Homo sapiens: one gene and its partners. The protein of the gene in region 2 interacts with the protein of the main gene of each other region in a biochemical or structural test. Each region holds a gene or a part of one and is shown on either strand. Other genes may lie near its edges.

Region 1 (6,678 bases), on a different chromosome or scaffold from region 2:
ATATCTTTGTTGGGGTGTTACCAAATGTTACATCGCAAATTTTAAATCTGTGCATTTTGTTTAAATTATACCTCAATTTTGGCCAGGCATGGTGGCTCACACCTGTAATCCAAACACTTTGGGAGGCCGAGGCGGGTGGATCACAAGGTCAGGAGTTGAAGACCAGCCTGGCCAACATGGTGAAACCCCATCTCTACTAAAAATACAAAAATTAGCCAGGTGTGGTGGCCCGCACCTGTAGTCCCAGCTACTTGGGAGGCTGAGGCAGAAGAACTGCTTGAACCCAGGAGGCAGAGGCTGCAGTAAGATGAGATCGCACCACTGCACTCCAGCCTGGGTGACAGAGCGAGACTCCATCTCAAAAAAAAAAGAAAAAAAATTTTACCTCAATTTTTACAAATTTGAAGTACTATGTATCTACTGGGTCCTAAAATTAAATATAATCTACCACACATAGGAAGCATCTAATCAATCTTGTTATTAAAAACCAACACAGGACATTCAGAAAGCAGATATGAAGCTTTAATTCACCATAGGCATTTCTCCAACCATTCTGTACATTAAACTTTCATGTCTTCACACATATACATCTTTTATAAGACAGTTTTCTTAGCAATATGGTACTCTGTACCATACCAACATTCCATTTAACTAGTTAAGGGTGTATTATATAACATGAACCACTGATTAAATATAAATACAGAAGTTGAATACATAGGTTAGAAAGTTTAAATTTTAAAAAAATTTAAGAAAGGCTAAATACCATGAAAGTTTACATGTATTCTTTAATTCTAGACACCGTACAACAGTGACAACCAATTACAATAAAATCACAATTGCTTTTAGATGACAGTACTTTCAGATTTCTAATACCCAATTACTTTCATTTCCACAATGTCAACTTCATGCTGCATTTTCATTTCTATAGAGCAGACAAGCTTCCAGACTGCAGACCAAGTTTCTTGTGTAATAATACTACTATCTTGATCATGACCACAGGAAACCAATTTTATATTCCCTGTACTATAGAGATGAGACATTATTTGGTGTATATGAAACTCTTCAGTGGTGGTGTTCAAGAATATTCAAATAGTAGCTGAAAATAGGGTTTGCTAGAGCAGTCCACATATTTCATTAAAAGAAAAATGCCCAGTCAAAACATTTAGAAATAAATATATAGTACAGCCTTTCCCTCTCCCAAATACTACCCAGGAAAAAAGTTCCAAGCTGACTTAAAAAAAAAAAAACACACAAATAAAAACAAAAACACCTCAAAAAATAAACATTATATGATATTCTGAGCAGCAATCTTCCTGAGTCTATTTTCAATTGAAACAAATTCTGCAGCCAATAGTACACTGATTCAGTATCCACAGTCCAGAAGGAGTTCTTGAACATCTAGTTCATATCCCCAAAAAATGTGAAAAGACTCCTAAACACCCAAGTTATTACACAATGGGAAGCTGATATTGGCTTGTATTAAAATCCAGGTGAATATCAAACATAATCACAGCCTTAACAGTGATGCTAGAATAAGTGATGACAATATGTGCACAGCTGTATACAGATCACTATTAAACACAGGAACAAAATGCCACTTGATGCATATCAAAAAGCCAATTTGAATATATTTATTTCATTTACATTGATACAGTATTAGAAGGGACTGAATATAATTATGGAGACTGCTGCAAACATTTGATGCCACTAAGTATTCTATTAAGCATCAGGCATGCACAGTAGTTACCTTTTAAAGTTTCTCATGTATATATCTTAACACATATATCTTAAGCTACAATATGTTTAAAGCATTTAGTCATTTTAAACCCAAATATTTTAATTGACCTATGTCTAAATGGAGAAAAACAGAAACTTCCTCCTGTCTCAATACCCGATGGCAATATTAAACCTTACTCCCCAAATTGATATTTAAACTTATTTATGTCATCTTTAAAATTCCAAAAATAATGAAAAGTCTTATCATTACTAAATAAGAAGTACGATTCCCCGGCAGCAGTCTACCCACCACACACTTACGGCATGCCAAGCCTTTGGGGATTACATAAGAGTGATGTGCTGGTGGCTACAGATGACAATAATTGAAGAGATCAGTCTCTTCTTTTTATTCTGGATCTCCTTATTTTAAACTAAAGCTTTTCATTAATACAAATAAAAAAATCTTTTTTTCTTTCTTTAACTTCAATAGAAGAGTAGATAAAACTAAAAACCCTTATTGTCTCCAAGTGTGTGGCAAAATAGAAAATCTTTCAATTACATTAGGAAATCGGGTGGATAACGGAGTATAGTTATTCCACTTAAGAAGCATTCCAGTCAAATAATCACAAAAACAAATTCAGATTGCTTGGATCTTGGTCATTTATGGCTTGAAGAACTGGATTTGAAAACCACTTTAGGCTAAAATAAATGTATATGAATAATGCATAGACTGTGTATCTAGAAAATCATGCAATAAATATATGTTCTCATGTACACTGGAATCTCAGTGAAGAAAGGTGTGAACAGTACTGTTTCTTCACTTTAACCAAGAGACTACACACAGCAAGATACTTGCTTTTGGCCTATTCAAGATCTTATTTGCCAGGTCATCCTAATTTTCTCAGGTTGGTAAAAGAAGCTAATGTTTCAAGACACCTGTGATAAAGAAGTGACTTGCTTCAAGTGCAGGTGCCATGAAATCTGAGCTAGGCAGGACCAGACTCTCCTGACCCTGCCACCCTGCTGCAAAGTCAATTTGGAGTACCTGACTAGCTAGAGTATCAAAAGGGTAAATGCTTAGAATGACCAACTGGAAATGTTTATTATAGTAGTATCTTTTTAAAAAATCTGCCCTTTAAATGTATATCATTTGAGAATTGCCAGTGAAAGAGCCACTCACTATTCTTGGTTTTGATACGCCCCTACAACATGAGAATTGAACTGAACTACAATGATTGTAATGTCATCTCTGTACATTCGAGCAAGCTCTTCAGGAAGACTAAGCATTTTAGAGAGGCGCTCATGATCAACAGTCCCAAACTCGTTGTTGCCCACAGCGTGGCGAATGAGATGGGTTGCTGCGTTCTGATCCTCAAATACCGAGGACATTTTGGTTCTCCTTTCTGTTAAAAGGCCATGCATCTGTCCCAGAGTCACCTTGTAGCCACCAACAGCTATTGGCTGTTGGTGATGCATGCCAGTTAGGTACTCACCCACAATCCTAACCACATCCTGCCTATGCATAGTCTCCCACAACCCATCAGTAGCCAACACCAGAAACTTATCCTGTGGCCTTAATCGGTGGTAAGTTACCTCTGGCTCAGCAGTGAGATAAGGAGGTGTGTGATAATTAGGAGGAATAAACTTGGTATATTCATTGTCATTCAACTGGTCTGGGCCAGATTCTATCACTCTCTTTTGAAGGTCAATGCTCCATTTGAACTTTACATCTCCAAATGCCCTAAATGGCATCAGCAAGCCAAGCAGCCGATCCTGTTTCACGACACTCTTGGCCTCACTCTTTGGATGTTCCAATTTCAGCCGTTCTAGTTCTCTTTCATTTTGAGCATTGTGGTCATTAGACAGCGTGACTGCTGACCATGAGCCGTCCTCTTCCTGCACACCCAGCATGGCTCTGCTATCGCCAGTATTGGCCACATGAAGGTCAACACCATCCACATGGGCCACACAAGCAGTGGCTCCAGAAAATGCCACTCGAAGCACCAGGTAGTTGAGAAAAGAATTAGGATCACCAACTTGCGCCTCCAAGGAGATGTCATTATCAAGCCTCTTGAAGGCATTAATTAGAGCCTCCTTAACATCAATATCAGTCGACTCACCAGTGTTGAGGTCTATAAGCTCTTGCCAGTAAGTCCTCAAGCTGTTAAAGTACAATTTGGATGCCTCCTTACTAAAGTAATCATTGGGGTGCTTGTGCCACTGGAGAATGGGTAGCAGTGCCCGGCCGCTCTCCACTGCATTTTCAATCTCTAGCAAAGTCTCATGGGGTAACAAAGAGACAGCAATATAATAAAAGAGTCTTTCACTGACTGCCTGGGAACAAGCACAACCTGCATGGCCATCAAAAACCCCCAAAAGCATCCCTCTGGTCTGCAAGCAGGTTGCTGCACTTCTCCGGTCCTCAATGGGTGCATTTGCAGGCAGCTGATTGCTGTCAAATCCAAGGATAGAACTGACATTTTTGCCGTCAAATTCTGGCACTTTGAAACTGTATTCATTAGCTTTAAGGATGCTATTGACTTGTGGAGGTGTGAGGTAAAATTTCTGTGGTGTGGAAGCATATCTCCTTCCTTGGGTGTACTGCCACCAGTTCTCCTTTGGCCTGCAAAAGGTAGCATATGCTGGATGAGGTGTGTATCTCAGTCGACTCTGAGGAATGTACGATGAGGAACAACAGAGATGTTTGTGGTGGCAGTAACATGCAGTGCCATAGATCCTGCTCAGTTCACAGTTACGGATGAGAGGAAAAAACAGTTGAGTTGGTGCTGGCATGGCATCAGAGAACAGTGGCAGGCTGGAACTTCTGACTGGGATTCCTAGACAGCAAATTAGACAGATGTACACAAAGGAAAGAGTTACATTTCAGGATACTTAATCTAGCTTTGCCTTTATAACAAATATTAAGCAAGTCAATCTACATGTTAAGCCTTTGCTAGAAGGTACTACATTTTATACACACATCATGTACTATTTCTACAGGGTATATTCTGGCAGGCACAACTCCCAATCATTCGTGGAACCACGACTGAACTCCTGGCTCCTATACTCAAACTTCAATTTTCTCTTTTCTTTGTCGTCCTTTGTGCAGTACAAACTGTGCAGAATGTACAACAGATTTGGCTGGGGAAAGCTGAGGAGATGAAGGTTATATAACATTATGCAGTAGCCGTCTACCTGACCAATCATCCTTCTCCCTCCCTATTCTTAAAAAATGCCTTGAAATCTCCCATTTTACACAGGGACTTCTTCCATTTATGAAGACCCTTTACATAGACCTGTGGTCAATTTTTGGCATGATTACACATGGCTATGACCAAAAATGTTAAGAGGCAGCCAAACATATGTGTATTTATGAATTACGTGTACATCATATACATATATGACTACAGTAATATGCATTGTAACATATATAGAAAAATTTCTACATAATTAAATAAAAAAAGAAATTCCAGTATTTCTCTCCTGTACCCCAGTAGATGGTCTTGCAAAACTTGCTTCTCTAGTCCACTGTGGCAATTTGCCAGGCTAACGGGCATAGGTCTGCCACCAACTCCCAAATAATCTTGGAAAAGTCAGCTCACATCTTTGAGTCTCACTCTTCTAACCTGTAAAGGAACATCAACAGAGCAGATGCTATCTAAGGCTCTTCTAGGATTCATGCCTTTATGCTTATGGAAGTGAGGTTTTTAAATAAAATTCAGGTTTCATTTATTCACTGTTGAATTCTACCGTGCCCTTCATGATTAAAAAAAAAAAAAAAGTTTAAGTATTGCAGTAGCTCTAAAGCTTTGTTAGTAACATAAATGGTTTCAGTCCTAGAACTTAATTTACCTACTAACAATGTTCCCTGCTTAGCAGCTATAAGGAAAACCCATAGAAGTATTTTCATCTACTATGGATCCAAAGTAGAATTAACCCCTAGAAAAATGTTTTCTTGGATATGGTAATCACTCTGATTTGATCATTACACAATGTCTACCAATATATACATGCACTGAAACATCACATTGTACCCCATAAATATATAATATTATGTGTCAATTGTAAATTAAAAATAAATTTTAAAAGACCAAAAATGTTTTCTCTCACATTAAAAAAAAAAAAAAAAGGTATTTACTTGCTCCAGGGAAGCAGTATAGTCAAATAATAGTCTAAGGTTTGGATTGAAAAGGTACAGCAATATAATTACAAACTTAAAAAAAATCCTATCACTCACTATGTGCGCTGAAAATAATTTCTGGGCATTTATTTGGGAAATTTAATGAATATATCATTAATCTAGATAATTTGGGCAAGAAAAAAAATCCCTCTTCTTCCTCAATAACATATATTTTCCCTGAATTCTTGAGATACTGCTTCAAAATAGTCATTTGTACTATAAAGAAACACTTTGGAAATACTTTAAATAAACAAATGCAATAAACAAAAAGGAACACAGAAAATAAAACCATCTGAGTTAATAGCAACTATTCCTTCCCACGGCTAAACAAATATCATAGCATGTGTCAGCCATATATTATTTTCATGTACCTTTTTTGAAGAATAATTTGAGAAAAAGTAATAAATTGGGGTAGAGGGAAGCAAAGAAAACTAAACACTGAATAATCACTGATTCTTGTTTGTTTCTGTAATAAGCACTGCATAAGCCAGCCACACAGATTCTCTTCTGCAAGTAGTAGAAAGTACCATCATTTTAACTGCACTATCTAAGAAGGGATTTGTTTACGAAAATGAAGACAAGATCAGGCAATAGAAAGTAATGGCTAAAATTTTGGAAATAAGAATCCGTAACTAAAAAAGCATTCTGAAATGCACTAATGAAAAACAGAAATTCCAGAAAAACGGGAATCCATCAGGAGTAACCATTTAAATAAAAGAAATTCAAACTGAATACCTGAAAGTCATCCAGAGGTTAAGTGTACATGACTGAGCCAGAAGATG
Region 2 (7,032 bases):
TCAAGACCAGCCTGGACAACGTGGTGAGACCCAGTCTCTACTAAAAATACAAAAGTTAGCCCAGCATTGTGGCACATGCCTATAATCCCAGCTACTTCAGAGGCTGAGGCAGGAGAATAGCTTGAACCCAGGAGGCGGAGGTTGCAGTGAGCCAAGATTCTGGGACTACACTCCAGCCTTGGCAACAAAGCAAGACTGTCTAAAAAAAAAAAAAAAAAATTCCAAGTCTTTCTTAAATATAGCTTTCTAAAATGTAGTTTTGAGTTAAAGCTAGGTTCTAAATTATTTAGTCTTAGAATCTAACAAGATATTTTCATTTTTTAAGATTGTTTTCAAGTAAAACTTGCTGTTTCTCCCTATCCACTTCCAACAATTGTCTGATTTATATGAGGCAAACACATCTCATATAAATATGACCTATAATAGCAGATAAATTATTTCTTAAAAAAGGAAAGAGTAAACATCTTGCCCCTACTACTTCTCAGTTCTTTCCACACTTCTTAGGAACAAATGTCAACAGTAGGCTGGGCAAGTGGCTCACGCCTGTAATCCCAACACTTTGGAAGGCTGCGGTGGGCATATCACTGGAGGTCAGGAGTTAGAGATCAGCCTGGCCAACTTGGCGAAAAAACCCCGTCTCTACTAAAAATACAAAAATTAGCCAGGCGTGGTAGCGGGCACCTGTAATCCCAGCCACTCAGGAGGATGAGGCAGAAGAATTGCTTGAACCCAGGAGGCGGAGGTTGCAGTGAGCCAAGATCACGCCACTGCACTCCAGCCTGGGAGACAAGAGTGAAACTCCATAATAAATAGATTAATTAATTAATTCTGACAACGCAGGACACAATTCAGAGACCTACTGATCTGAAATTAGACTATCAGTAGCTGGGCGCAGTGGCTCATGCCTGTAATCCCAGCACTTTGGAGGCCGAGGCGGGTGGATCATGAGGACAGGAGTTCAAGACCAGCCTGACCAACATGGTCAAACCCCGTCTCTACTAGAAATATAAAAGTTAGCTGGGTGTGGTGGTCCATGCATGTAAGCCCAGCTACTCAGGAGTCTGAGGCAGGAGAATCACTTGAACCTGGGAGGCAGAGCTTGCAGTGAGCCAAGATCACGCCACTGTACTCCAGCCTGGGCGACAGAGCGAGTCTCAAAAAATGATAATAAATTTAAAAAATAATAATTTAAAAACTTACAAAAAAAAAAGTTCCTACTTGTAGTAAACATGCCGGTCACTGCCTCTCCAAACACATGTCTTTCTCAAAGGACAACCCTAAGTACTTACAAGGTGACTCCCCTGCCTCTGGCCAGAGCTGATGGGATCAAGAATGGAATGGACTCACCCAAGCTAGGACCCAGAGAGACTGGGTCAGTTGGATGACGGTGGGGACTGGGACTGAAAAGTCAAAAGGGGCTGGAGCTGACCAGCCAATGCCACAGAAAAGCAGCGGTTAGAACAAAGAGAAAAGCCATGAATACACTGAGAAGCAAAAGAATGCAACATATATACTCAGAGACAGGAGAAATAGACCATGGCACACCACAAGAGGCAAAAGATGGCTTTGGTTAGTGATTTTCTAGCTTGGGTTCTGGCAGGGTCAGTTGCAATTTATTTTGTTTGAAAATTTTCATATATAAAAATAAAAAATAAACCAGAACTCCTGGACTCAAGCAATCCTCCTGCCTCAGCCTCCCAAGTATCTGCGACTACAGGCACACATCCCTGTACCCAGCCAGCTGCACTTTATTTCCTATCCTTGGATGTCCTAGTGCTTGCCCATTGTATCTCTTCAAAAAGTCCCCTTTCTGAAGACTCCTTAAAGAACTAAAACTAGAACTACCATTTGATCCAGCAATTCCACTACTGGGTATCTACCCAGAGGAAAAGAAGTCATTATATGAAGGCCAGGCACAGTGGCTCATGCCTTTAATCCCAGCACTTTAGGAGGCTGAGGCGGGCGGATAATGAGGTCGGGAGTTCAAGACCAGCCTGGCCAACATGGTGAAACCCCAACTCTACTAAAAATACAAAAATTAGCTGGACGTGGTGGCACACGTCTGTAATCCCAGCTACTCGGGAAGCTGAAGCAGGAGAATCGCTTGAACCCAGGAGGCAGAAGTTGCAGTGAGCCGAGATCACGCCACTGCATTCCAGCCTGGGCGACAGAGCAAGACTCCATCTCAAAAAAAAAAGTCGTTACACGAAAAAGACACTTGCACACGCATGTTCATAGCAGCACAATTTGCAATTGCAAAAATATGGAACCAGCCCAAATGCCCATCAATCAACAAGTGGATAAAGCAAATGTGGTATATATACCATGGAATACTACTCAGCCGTAACAAGGAATGAAATAATGGCACTCACTGCAACCTGGATGGAATTGGAGACTATTATTCTAAGTGAAGTAACTCAGGAATGGAAACACCAAACAGCTTATGTTCTCACTCATAAGTGGGAGCTGCGCTATGAGGACACAAAGGCATAAGAATGATACAGTGGACTTTGGGGACTCAGGGGAAAGGCGGGGGGTGGGGGTGAGGAATAAAAGACTACACATTGGTTTACAGTGTATACTGCTCAGGTGATGGGTGCACCAAAATATCAGATACCACCAATAAAGAACTTATTCATATAATCCAACACCACCTGTTCCCAAAAGCCTATTGAAATAAAAATTAAATTTTAAAAGTCCCCTTTCTACTTAGCTAGTTTGTTCCTTGTTTACTAAGCCACTTCTCTTCTTTCAAGCTTCTGGTCCAGTTTAATGGAATCTTCCCTGGTTCTCTCCACTTTACTCTGGATCCCATTTCCAGTTGCCTTTTCAAAGATGGCACAGTTATCCCTTCCTTCTCCTCTACATCATTCACCCCTTTTACTTCTGGATAATTCCATAAGCATACAAACAGGATCTGATTCCCCCCACCTAAAAAACAAAGTAAAAACAAATAAATGTCTCTTGACCCACATTCCCGAGCTTTCACCTCATTTCTTTTTGAAAAAAGGCTGGAGTGCAGTGGTGCGATCTCAGCTCACTGCAACCTCTGCCTCCCAGGTTCAAGCAATTCTCCTGCCTCAGCCTCCCGAGTACCTGGGACTACAGGCATGCGCCACCACGCCCGGCTAATTTTTGTATTTTTAGTAGAGACAGGGTTTCACCACGTTGGCCAGGCTGATTTTGAACTCCTGACCTCAGGTGATCCGCCTGCCTCGGCCTCCCAAAGTGCTGGGATTACAGGCATGAGCCACTGCACATGGCCTCACCTTACTTTAGTTCTCTTTGGCAAGAAAGGTTCTCCAGGTTACCTACAGTGTCTATTTGCTTGTCCTCACCTCCTCTTTACAGTTCAACCCACTCAGATCAGGATTTTATTTCTGCCAGTTTACCACTGTTGGTTCTGAGCAACATCAGCAATGTCTGTGTAGCAAAATCCAACTCGCTATAATTGTCTCACTTAACCTTTTAACACATCAGCAAGACTGGGCTCACCTTTCTTTGAGAAATATGCTGAGCAGTTAAGAGCCTGGGCTTACCAGCTCAGTATTCTTTGTTTGTTTGTTTTGTAGAGACAGAGTCTCACTATCTTACCAAGCTGGTCTCAAACTCCTGGGCTCAAGCGATCCTCCTGCGTTGGCCTTCCAAAGTGCTGGGATTACAGGCGTGAGCCACTGTGCCCTGCAAGCTGAGTATTTTTGAGCAAGTTACTTAGACACACTTACCTTGGTTTTCTTAAATACCCTCCACAGGCTGTTATGAGAATAAAATGAGGTAATATGTATAATCCACTGCAGAAACCCTTCCTTGTCTTGGCTTCCATTACAAACGTGGACTCCTTCCTACCTCATTAGTCATATTTACCTCAGTCTCCTTTACTATCTCATCTTCCCCTTCCAACCTCCAAGTGCTGAATGTCCCAGGGCTTTGTTCCAGGCCTCTTTTAATTTAACTTCACTATATCCTTAGTTATATCCAGTCCCATGGCTTTAAAAAGCATTTATGAGGCCGGGCACAGTGGCTCACGCCTGTAATCCCAGCACTTTGGGAGGCCAAGGCAGGCAGATCACGAGGTCGGGAGATAGAGACCATCCTGGCTAACACGGTGAAACCCCATATCTACTAAAAATACAAAAACAAAATTAGCCAGGCGTGGTGGCGGGCACCTGTAGCCCTAGCTATTTGGGAGGCTGAGGTGGGAGAATGGTGTGAACCCGGGAAGTGGAGCTTGCAGTAAGCCAAGATCACGCCACTGCACTCCAGCCTGGGTGACAGAGTGAGACTCTGTCTCAAAAAAAAAAAAAAAAGGCTTCTATGTGCTGATGATTTTCCAAATTTCTATCTCCAACCCTGACCTTTCAACTGACCACCAGACTCACACCCAAGCGCCAACCTGACAGCTGCAGGTGAATGTCCAAATCATAGCTCTCAATTTCCAACCCTAGAAAACCTGTTTGTGGCCAGGTGCAGTGGCTCACCCCTGTAATCCCAGCAGTTTGGGAGGCCGAGGGGGGCGGATCACGAGGTCAGGAGTTCCAGACCAGCCTGGCCAACATGCTGAAACCCCGTCTCTACCAAAAATACAAAAAAATAAAAATAAAATAAAATAAAAAAATAACAGGGCATGGTGGCACGCGCCTGTAATCCCAGCTACTCCAGAGGCTAAGGCAAGAGAACTGCTTAAACCCGGGAGGTGGAGGTTGCAGTGAGCTGAGATTGCGCCATTGCACTCCAGCCTGGGTGACAGAGAAGACTCCATCTCAAAAAAAAAAAAAAAAAAAAGAAAACCTGTTTGTTGCCGGTATTCTCAGGTGCTCAAGCCAAAATCATCCTTCATCCTTCCCTTTATTGCAATCCCTAAAATCCAGATACTGTGAACAGCGTCCAAAACATAACTAAATTCGTCCACTCTGCCTCATGTCTACTGCTGCCACCTAGTCCAAGCCACCATCTCTTGTTCCTATTAATGGCCTTCTACCTAGTTCCCTGCCTCCCCTGACACCTCTCTACAGTCCCTCCAGCTTTGAAAAATGTAAATCAGATCATATCACTCTACTGCTTAAAATAATTTAACAGCTTTTCATTGCTCTTGGAATTATATACAAATTCTTTACCTCATCCTCCAAGAACCTGCATGATCTGGCTCTAGGTTTTCTCTCCAAATTTACATCACTCTTGCTCTGTGCCAGCCACTGGCATCTCTTTGTTCTAAACCCTATCCCGATACCTCAAGGTCTCTGCAGTGTGCCTCTGCCAGTAATAGTCTCCTCAGGCCGGGCCTAGTGGCTCATGCCTATAATCCCAGCCCTTTGGGAGGCCGAGGCAGGTGGATCACTTGAGATTAGAAGTTTGAGACCAGCCTGGCCAACATGGTGAAACCCCGTGTCTACTAAAAATACAAAAATTAGCCAGGTGTGGGGGTGGGCACCTGTAGTCCCAGCTACTTGGGAGGTTGAGGTGGGAGAATCGCTTGAATCCAGGAGGCAGAAGTTTCAGTGAGCCGAGATCGCGCCGCTGCCCTCTAGCCTGTGCAACAGAGTGTGATCCTGTCTCCAAAAAAATCAAAAACAAAACAAAACAAAAAGTCTTCCCAGCTCTCCATGGCTGGCTCATTTTTATTCTTCATGTCTTTTCTTTTTTTTTTTTTTTAGACGGAGTCTCACTTTGTCACCCAGACTGGAGTGCAGTGGCGCGATCTCGGCTCACTGCAAGCTCCGCCTCCCAGGTTCACGCCATTCTCCTGCCTCAGCCTTCCAGGTAGCTGGGACTACAAGCGCCCGCCACCACGCCTGGCTAATTTTCTGCATTTTTATAGAGACAGGGTTTCACCTTGTTAGCCAGGATAGTCTCGATCTCCTGACCTGGTGATCTGCCCGCCTCAGCCTCCCAAAGTGCTGGGATTACAGGCGTGAGCCACCACACCCAGCCTATTCTTCATGTCTTTTCTAATGACACATTCCCAGAGTGGTCCACCCTAACTACTCTATTTAAAGTTACCCTCTACTTTTTCCTCTCTTTTATATGAATATCTTTATTTCCTTCAAAGCACCTCTTACACTGTAAGTATGTGGTTCACATCTTTGTTTTATTATCCACCCCTCCAACATAATACAGGCTTCCTGATGGCGGGATGGTGTCTCTTGCTCACTGTTACATCCCTATGACTTAGCACAGTGCCTAGCGCTCCTTCAATATCAGAAACGAATGACAAAATTATAGTATGGTCAGGACACTGAACCATATAGTGTATAATAATACATGCTGAATGAACACAACCCATTAAGTTTTATCTACATAACACAATTATCTTTCAGGGAGGGCTCAGCCATGCCAGGCAGAGGTCAGCACTCCTATCTCAGCTTCCACAACGCCCGTGCACATTCTAATTGTTCCAGAATATATAATTTTGTAACCCTCAGGTGGCTTTTCTCCTCACTAGACTGTGAATTCCAAGAAGAGACTGATTTTATTTATTTTCTATCCCAGTGATGGCAGCAGACACAAAACAAATATTTGAAGACAGTCTGAAAGTTACCAATAACTCAGAGAAACAAAATTTCAGCTACAGTAAATGTTATGAAACCAGCAAAATTGATCATGAACTAGAGAGTAACTGACGGCCTACTTTACATGGGAGAGTCAAAAAAGGCCTTCTAGCAATGTTAATGGAGCTGAGAAATGAATGTTAAAGAGTCATCCTTGGAAAGATCCAGGAAAAGAACATTTGAGGCATCAGGAACACGTAGGACTAAGGCCACGAATTCGGAACAAAATTGGCACACATACTAAGTATAGAAAGAAGGGTCCTGTGGCAAAAGCAGAGTGAGCACGGCAGCAGCTGAGGCCACAGAACTAAGTAGGGCCCAGCAGATCATAAGGGTCTAGATTCTGGCCTATGGGCAATGACAAGCCACTGAAAGCTTTTATGTTATAAAAAGACCACTCTGGCTGCGGGGGAACTGAGTGTACTAGGGTAAGATTAGAAAAAGGGAAGGGGGCCAGGTGTGGTGGCTCACACCTGTAATCACTTTA
Region 3 (7,996 bases), on a different chromosome or scaffold from region 2:
TAGAGTATATATATTATAAAAATAGCTAACCTAAACATTCCCTGACTTTGAAAGTCTCAGGAAGGGATTCACTTGTTCAAATATTCACCTAAAATACCCTGCTTTAAAGATACACAACTCTTCACTCTTCACACATCAAATGAATTAGGATTCTGATTTTTTCTTTTCTTCCTTTCTCTTTTTTTTTTAGACAGGGTCTCACTCTGTTACTCAGGTGGAAGTGCAGTGGAGCCATCTTGGCTCGCTGCAACCTCCACTGCCCAGCTCAAGTGTTTCTGCCACATTAGCCTCCGGAGTAGCTGGGATTACAGGCGCACACCACCACACCCGGCTAATTTTTGTATTTTTTGTAGAGATGGGGTCTCGCAATATTGCCCAAACTGGTCTCAAACTGCTGGCCTCAAGCGATCCACCTGCCTAGACCTCCCAAAATGCTGAGATTATAGGCATTTGCCACCGTGCCCAGCCAGGATTCTGATTTTCTAAAATGGAAATAGATAAGGCTTCCCTCCGACCATCCCTAAATCTCAATTAGTTCAATTCAGCAAAACATGCAGGTTTTCAACGACCATCAGATTTGAAACCAACAAAGGCAGCAGCCCTCAGCATAGCCTGAGCAGCCAACCTGAAGCAGATAGGCTCCATACCTCAAATGTCCACCTTCAAACAAAATAAAGCTTGCCATCTGCACACTAGATCCTTTCTATCATAGCAACAAAATAAAACAGCTGCTCTCTCTTCATTTGACTCTAGAAGAAAAAGAGATAAGTATCTCCATGATTGAAAGTGAGATAACCAGATGAGATTTTTTTTAAGAGCTCAGCCTGTGCCCTTGACTTATGGATTGTCCCCCCACCCCATGGAAGTCAAATACCCACATAAAAATACCCCTGAAAAGCAATCTTGGACCATTAAAAATATTTTAAACCTAAAATAAAATTCTAAGAAAGTCTATGACTAAACTGACCTTTCTTAAACAAATGTAAATCTTATTTGTGTGTTTTTCTAGAAAAACCATTCGGGGTAGGGCACAGTGACTCGTGCCTGTAATCCCAGCATTTTGGGAGGCCGAGGCAGACGGATTGCCTGAGGTCAGGAGTTCGACACCAGCCTGGCCAACATGAAGAAACCCTGTCTCTAATAAAAATATAAAAATGAGCCTGGTGTGGTGGTGCGCCCCTGTAATCCCAGCTAGTCAAGAGGCTGAGGCAGGAGAATTGCTTGAACCAGGGAGGCGGAGGTTGCAGTGAGCCGAGATCAAGCCACAGCACTCCAGCCTGGGCGACAGAGATTCTGTCTCAAAAAAAAAAAAAAAAAAAAACGAAAAAAAAAAGAAAAGAAAAGAAAAACCATTCGGACTCGAAAAGTACTGCTGTCTTTCAGTTGGTAAATAATAAAATTTGGACGTGAGGTAAGAAAACAATTGGAAGATACTGCGATCTAAAGAAGCCTGGGGGAGGGAGGCGAGATGTCTGGTCACTTCCCCAGTTGCACGACCTTAGGCAATTCCTAGATCCTTTGAGTCTATCCGGGTCTGCGCAGGTAATGACACCTCTCAACCCAAAGTATGAGAGCACCCTGGCCGGTGAGAGGGTGCCTGGGAAGTGGGGAATCTGCTACAAAACGCAGGGGAAGCTCGCGGGGGCCCTAGGATAAAGACCAAGAACCGCACAACACCGACTCTCTCCTAACACAAAACTGTCTGCTCCGAGAACCAAATATCCCACCTTCCCGCGGCTCCGGAGGTACCCGCCACTGTTTTATTTTAATCCACACATTCCCAGTCCTGAGCAATCCTTACCCCAGAGCTCGATTTTCAGGGAACCACAAAAGACAAATAGGCCAGAATAATCTAAGTCCAAGGGAGCCCTCCCGGCCACTTACAAACAGGGTCTTCCATTTTCAAGGGTCTTTTCAAACGGATGTTGGCAGGGACCGTCTTCTCGATCAATTCATCAATGCTCTAAAATTAAAACGCAAGGCAGAGGAAAGTGCCTCTGAGTTAAAAGAGTCACCTCTGTGTTTTGCGACTACAAAGCCTTGTGGGAACCTCATTGAAATCGCCTAATTAGGGTTCTTTTTAAAAGAAAAGGAAAACTCTGAGCAAGCCAGAATGATTTGGAGGAAAGAAAATCGTGAAGTGGGGTGGAGATTCCGCCACTCGGGGTTGGATTTCAGTTGCAACCGGAGCTAACCGGTAAGCCCACTCTTAATCAGGGGGTCTTCCTCCTCTTGCAAAGTTTAGGTCCATCCACAGGGCCACTTGGGCTGGGGGTGGTTTAAAAATGTACACTTTTGAGGCACGAAGACTGGGTGCAGGAGAAAGTAAGCTGTTAAGAAGTAAGAAGGCACGAGGACCAAAGGCACGAATTTGCTTCCACGCCACGGCCCGGGACCCAGGGTGCGGGGACCACGCGGAGCGCAGCAGAGCTCAGGGTAGGAGCCGGGAGGCCGCGCAGGCAGAGCCCGGGCAGGGCGGAGGGGAGGCCGCGGAGGGCCGGGTGGAGGTCCTTACCGCCAGCCCCAAGGTCTGCAGCATCTCTCTCTGGTCTTTGTCCCCAGGGCCGATGTGCCTCCGAGCGAAGTCGTCGTGTCTGGGCAGAAGGCGCTCCAGGAGGCGCGAGGCCCCAGCCGCGGCGCTGTCCCCGCCGCCACTGCTGCTGTCCCGGCTCCGCGGCGCCCAGCACGGCCCCGATCCCCCAGCCAGGCGGCGGCCGCCCCCGACCCCGCGGCCCAGGCGCAGCCCCCACGCCCTGGCACAGGACTGCATGGCCGCGGCCACCGTCCCCTGCCCCGGCCCGCAAGGGTCAGCCGCGCTCTTGGCCCCTCTCCTGGCCTCGGTCCCCCGGGTGGCGGCTGCGCCCGGCCTGGAGCCCCTTTCGCTGGACAGTCGGCCGGACAGATGGATGGACGCTCGCGGGCAATGAATGGGCGCTGCGCTCAACCAAGACACTCGCGCAAAGTTGTGGCTCCACCCAAGGCACCTGCTCCGCACACTTTAAGCGGCGCCCTGGAGGCGGGAGGTGGGTTGGGGCCAGGAAGCCCTTGGCCAATGAAAGTAGACAGAGGGGGAGGGGGCGGAACAGTTCCCGCCCCCGCCCCCTCTTCCTACCCTCTTCCCAGCCCTTCCGTGGAGTCCCGCTTCCCCTGGACCGGAGGCTGCCATCTCCAGTCCTACCCACTCCGACGCTGGCTGGTGCCGGGGGCCGGGACGCTCCGTACGCCGCCCGCCAGGGTGTGGAGCCGCACTGGGGCAAGATCAGGTGGGACAGCCCAAAGACTCCGGGCCAAGTTCCTGGGGGACTCGGCGGAGATGGAAGATGATTCTCGAAGCTCTCCATTTCCTTAATTTTGAGGTATCTTTCTCTGTCACATTTCATCTCAGGGAAATTAATATGGGCAGATGGCGGTTCTTTTATCTTTGCGGGAGCGTGATAAAGTTACTCAACCTCTCAGAGCTTCAGTTTTCTCATCTCAACAGAGCTGGATGGGATTTTAAAAAGAGATTATATGTACATGGAAAGCACTTGAACAGTAGATTTGAACACCCTCTCTATATTTCTTTTCTTTTCTTTCTTCCTTCTTTCTCCTCCTCCTCCTCCTCCTCCTTCTTCTCACTCTCTCTCTTTCTCTCTCTTCCCCCCCACCACATGTAACGCTATGGCTCACGCCTGTAATCGCAACACTTTCGGAAACCGACGCGGTAGGATAGCTTGAGCCCAGGAGTTCGAGACCAGCTTGGGCAGCATTGTGAAACCCTGTCTCTACAAAAAATACAAAAATTAGTGGGGCGTGGTTGCGTGCTTCTGAAGTCCCAGCTACTCTGGAGGCTGAGGTGGGAGGATTGCTTGAGTCAGGGAGTTTCAGGCTGCAGTGAGATGTGATCGCACCACTGCACTCCAGCGTGGGCCACAGAACGAGACTCAGGAAAAAAAAAAAAAAAAGAACTGTGTGTGTGTGTGTATATGTTTTTTTAAATATATGTACTGTATATACATATACGTGTGTGTGTAAAACTACAAAGGATATTTTGTTGTTGTTTTTGAGACGGAATCTCGCTCTGTCGCCCTGGCTGGAGTGCAGTGGCGCGATCTTGGCTCACTGCAACCTCCACCTCCCGGGTTCAAGCGATTGTCCTGCCTCAGGCTCCTGAGTAGCTGGGACTACAGGCACGTGCCACCACGGCCGGCCATTTTTTATTTTTATTTTTAGTAGAGACGGGGTTTCACCGTTTTAGGCAGGATGGTCTCGATCTCCTGACCTCGTGATCCGTCATTACAGGCGTGAGCCACTGCGCCCAGCAAAAGTACAAAGGATATTAAGATAGACATTGTTCACTGTCGTCTTACTTTGAAAGTTAGCCATCTAGAACTGGATTTTTTGTAAATGTACCATCTCCAGCTGTCTCATGACAGTTTTAGCAAGAGAATGAACTTTTAAAATTCCAGTTGTTCTAATATGGGGAAGAGAGGACAGAAGTAATCAGAACATTACTTGTACTTAGACTAGGGGAAAATAAAACCTGTTCTCTTTCTTGCTTATCTGCTAAGTTTCCTCCTCCAATCACCCTTAACAGATTCTGGGCTCCGTACCCAGGAGGCACAGACTATCCAGAGAGGCAGGAAAGTAGAGATGGAAAAGAGGGCAGGAAAATACACCACAAAGAACAGTAGGTAAAATGTCTGTATGGCAGACGGAGGCGGGTGGTGAGCTAGGACGGCTGGGCTGAATGTCTCCGAAAAGTTTTTCGGCCATTTGGAATTGAAATTACAACCTTCATAAAAGTTGGGAGATCTCCTCAGTGCCAGATGGTGGGGGTTGTGGGGAAGGATTGGAGGGAGGAGGTAATCTGCATTTATTCCTATTCCTGTCTATGTTGTTTCTATGTATCAGAGGGACTGGAAGCCAGGGAACAATAATTCCCAGATCCCTTTGGCTCCGTGGTGATGGATGTTATTTGCCTTCTGCCAAAAAAAAACATGTATATATACACACATATATGTATATGAGAATTGGGGCCGGGTGCGGTGGCTCACTCCTGTAATCCCAGCACTTTGGGAGGCCGAGGCGGGCAGGTCACTTGAGGACAGGAGTTCAAGACCAGCTTGGCCAAGATGGCGAAACTCAATCTCTACTACAAATATGAAAAAAAATTTAGCCAAGTTTGGTGGGCGTGCTTGTAGTCCTAGCTACTCAGGAGGCTAAGGCATGAGAATCACTTGAACCTGGGAAACAGAGGTTGCAGTGAGCGGAGAGCGCACCACTGCACTCCAACCTGGGTGATAGAGCAAGACTCTGCCTAAAAAAAAAAAAAGAGAGAGAGAGAGAATTGGGAAATGGAACAAAGGTAAAAACTGTTTTCTTATTTTCTGACTGCAGCAGACAGATGCATGGACCACTGCAGACATGACATGCTTCCTTACCAGCACCCCATCTTGAGGTAGCTGGGAAGCTGTATCCACCAATGGGAATGTCCTGCAGTTCCCCAGCAGGAATTTCTGTGTACTAGACTAGAGCTTCAGTGGTTGACCTGAAGATAGCGTTGGTATTCCCTGGTTTTTGCTCTTCCAGTTCTTCCAGTGGTTTTGTATGCACCCATTCCTGACATTTAATTCTCCTCTGCTTGAAATGCATTGAGTGTTTTTTGTTTATTTGTCTGTGTGATGTTGTGAAATACATATCTGGTATTCATCCCATTTCCTGGCCTGCAACTCCTAAAGTCTTGGGAATCTCCAGACTCCTGCCTTTTTGTATGCTAATGTGACTAACAGCTTCAGAATAGGGCTGGTCACTGGAAAGACAAAGACATAATGGGAGTTGAGACTTTCAGCCCCACCCTCAACTTCTCAGTAGGGCAGAGGGTCAATGATCAATGCTTAATCAATCATGCCTTCCTAATAAAGCCTCTATAAAAACCCAAGAGCCGGACGTGGTGGCTCATGCCTGTAATCCCAGCACTTTGGGAGGCCAAGGCTGGCGGATCACTTGACGTCAGGAGATTGAGACCAGCCTGGCCAACAGGGTGAAATCCCATCTCTACTAAAAATACAAAAATTGGCCGGGCGCGGTGGCTCACGCCTGTAATCCCAACACTTTGGGAGGCCAAGGTGGGCGGATCACAAGGTCAGGAGATCGAGACCATCCTGGCTAACACCGTGAAACCCCATCTCTACTAAAAATACAAAAAATTAGCCGGGCGTGGTGGCGGGCACCTGTAGTCCCAGCTACTCAAGAGGCTGAGTCAGGAGAATCACTTGAATCCGGGAGGTGGAGGTTGCAGTGAGCCAAGATCATGCCACTGCACTCCAGCCTGGGCAACAGAGGAAGACTCGGTCTCAAAAAAAAAACAAAAATAACACACACACAAAAACCCAAGAGGAGAGGTTTCAGAGAGCTTCTGGATAGCTGAATACACACAAAGTGGCACATGGGGAGAGGCCATGGAAGGTCCTCACCCCTTCTCCCATACCTACCTCGCCCTGCGCATCTCTTCATCTGTGTTACTTGTAATATCCTTTATAAAAAATCAGTAGACATAAGTGTTTCCCTGAGTTCTGTGAGCTATTCTATCAAATTAATCAAACCCAAAGAAGGGATCATGGAAACCCCAGCTTCAAGCTGATCCGTCAGAAGTTCTGGAGGCCTAGAATTGCAACTGATGTCTTGGGGACTGAGCCCTCAACCCTTGGGATCTGGCGGTATCCCTAGATAGAGTGTCAGAATTGAAGTGGAGTGCACCCAGCTGGTGTCTGCCTCAGAACCGACTGCTTGCTTGTTGGTGGGGAGAAATCCCCATATATTTCGGGATCATGGAAGTCATCTTCTTCTTTCTGTTTTTCCATTGAGACAGAGCCTTGGTCTGTTGCCCAGGCTGGAGTGTAGTGGTGCGATCTCAGCTCACTGTGACCTCGACCTCACAGTTTCAAGCAATTCTCCTGCCTCAGCCTCCAGAGTAGCAGGGACTACAGGCATATGCCACCACACGCACTAATTTTTGTGTTTTTTTTTTTTAGTAGAGATGGAGTTTCCCCATGTTGGCCAGGCTGGTCTCAAACTCCTGACCTCAAGTGATCCGCCCACCCTGGCCTCCAAAAGTGTTGGGATTACAGGCATGAGCCACCACGCCCAGCCAGATCATGGAAATCTTCTGTGTTGATTGTTGTAGTGTGGTGTGAGACCAGAGGAAGCACAGTTATAGTGCTTTTTCAAAACAGTTAGTTTTCCTGAATAAACCCAAACAAAGGCTATAATGGAAGCCAAAAGCAGATTGAGGAGGGCTTAATGTTTGGGTGAAAAAGGCAAGAGATTCCTGAGAGACACATTCACTCCCTGCCATTGTATGAGCTTTCAGGGAGTTTTTTCCTTTGCCTCCCCCTTTTCTTTTTTTTTTGAGTTTTGCTCTTGTTGCCCAGGCTGGAGTGCAATGTCCCGATCTCCGCCTCCCAGGTTCAAGCGATTCTTCTGCCTCAGCCTCCCGAGTAGCTGGGATTACAGGCATGCGTCACCACGCCCAGCTAATTTTTTCATATTTTTAGTAGAGACGGGGTTTCTCCATGTTGGTCAGGCTGGTCTCAAACTCCTGACTTCAGGTGATCCGCCCGTCTCAGCCTCCCAAAGTGCTGGGATTACAGGCGTGAGCCACCGCACCTGGCCTGCCTCCACTTTTGTTCCTCCCCTGCCCGTTCTGCTCTAGCACAAATATTTTGTCCTGAGCCAGCTTCCACCTCTTATTCAGAAGTCTCATCAGAATACTTTTCTTTTTTTTTTGAGACAGAGTCTCACTCTGCTGCCCAGGCTGGAGTGCAATGGCGCAGTCTCAGCTCACTGTAACATCCGCCTCCCGGGTTCAAACAATTCTCTTGCCTCAGCCTCCCGAGTAGCTGGGATTATAGGCACCCGCCACCATGCCCAGCTACTGTTTGTATTTTTAGTAGAGATGGAGTTTCACCATGTTGGCCAGGCTGGTCTCGAACTCCTAACCTTGTGGTCGGCCTGC

What was found. The genes of interacting proteins can lie anywhere in the genome.
Region 1: the proteins of ACAT1 (region 2) and PDP1 form a complex in vitro, tested with the Homo sapiens proteins (one study listed by BioGRID).
Region 3: of the proteins of ACAT1 (region 2) and GLDC, one has a biochemical effect on the other in vitro, tested with the Homo sapiens proteins (one study listed by BioGRID).

What each region holds. Positions count from the first base shown.
Region 1 is NC_000008.11:93,919,891-93,926,568, reverse strand, and holds the end of PDP1 (pyruvate dehyrogenase phosphatase catalytic subunit 1), read right to left. Parts: intron 5,343-6,678; exon of another isoform or gene 5,206-5,342; intron 4,554-5,205; coding exon of another isoform or gene 4,510-4,553; coding exon 2,896-4,509; 3' UTR 501-2,895; downstream 1-500. UniProt on the Homo sapiens protein: Mitochondrial enzyme that catalyzes the dephosphorylation and concomitant reactivation of the alpha subunit of the E1 component of the pyruvate dehydrogenase complex (PDC), thereby stimulating the conversion of pyruvate into acetyl-CoA.
Region 2 is NC_000011.10:108,124,542-108,131,573, reverse strand, and holds part of ACAT1 (acetyl-CoA acetyltransferase, mitochondrial isoform b precursor), read right to left. Parts: intron 3,689-7,032; exon of another isoform or gene 3,595-3,688; intron 2,932-3,594; exon of another isoform or gene 2,715-2,931; intron 2,472-2,714; exon of another isoform or gene 2,373-2,471; intron 1-2,372. UniProt on the Homo sapiens protein: This is one of the enzymes that catalyzes the last step of the mitochondrial beta-oxidation pathway, an aerobic process breaking down fatty acids into acetyl-CoA.
Region 3 is NC_000009.12:6,642,730-6,650,725, forward strand, and holds the start of GLDC (glycine dehydrogenase (decarboxylating), mitochondrial precursor), read right to left. Parts: upstream 3,001-7,996; 5' UTR 2,771-3,000; coding exon 2,516-2,770; intron 1,964-2,515; coding exon 1,885-1,963; intron 1-1,884. UniProt on the Homo sapiens protein: The glycine cleavage system catalyzes the degradation of glycine.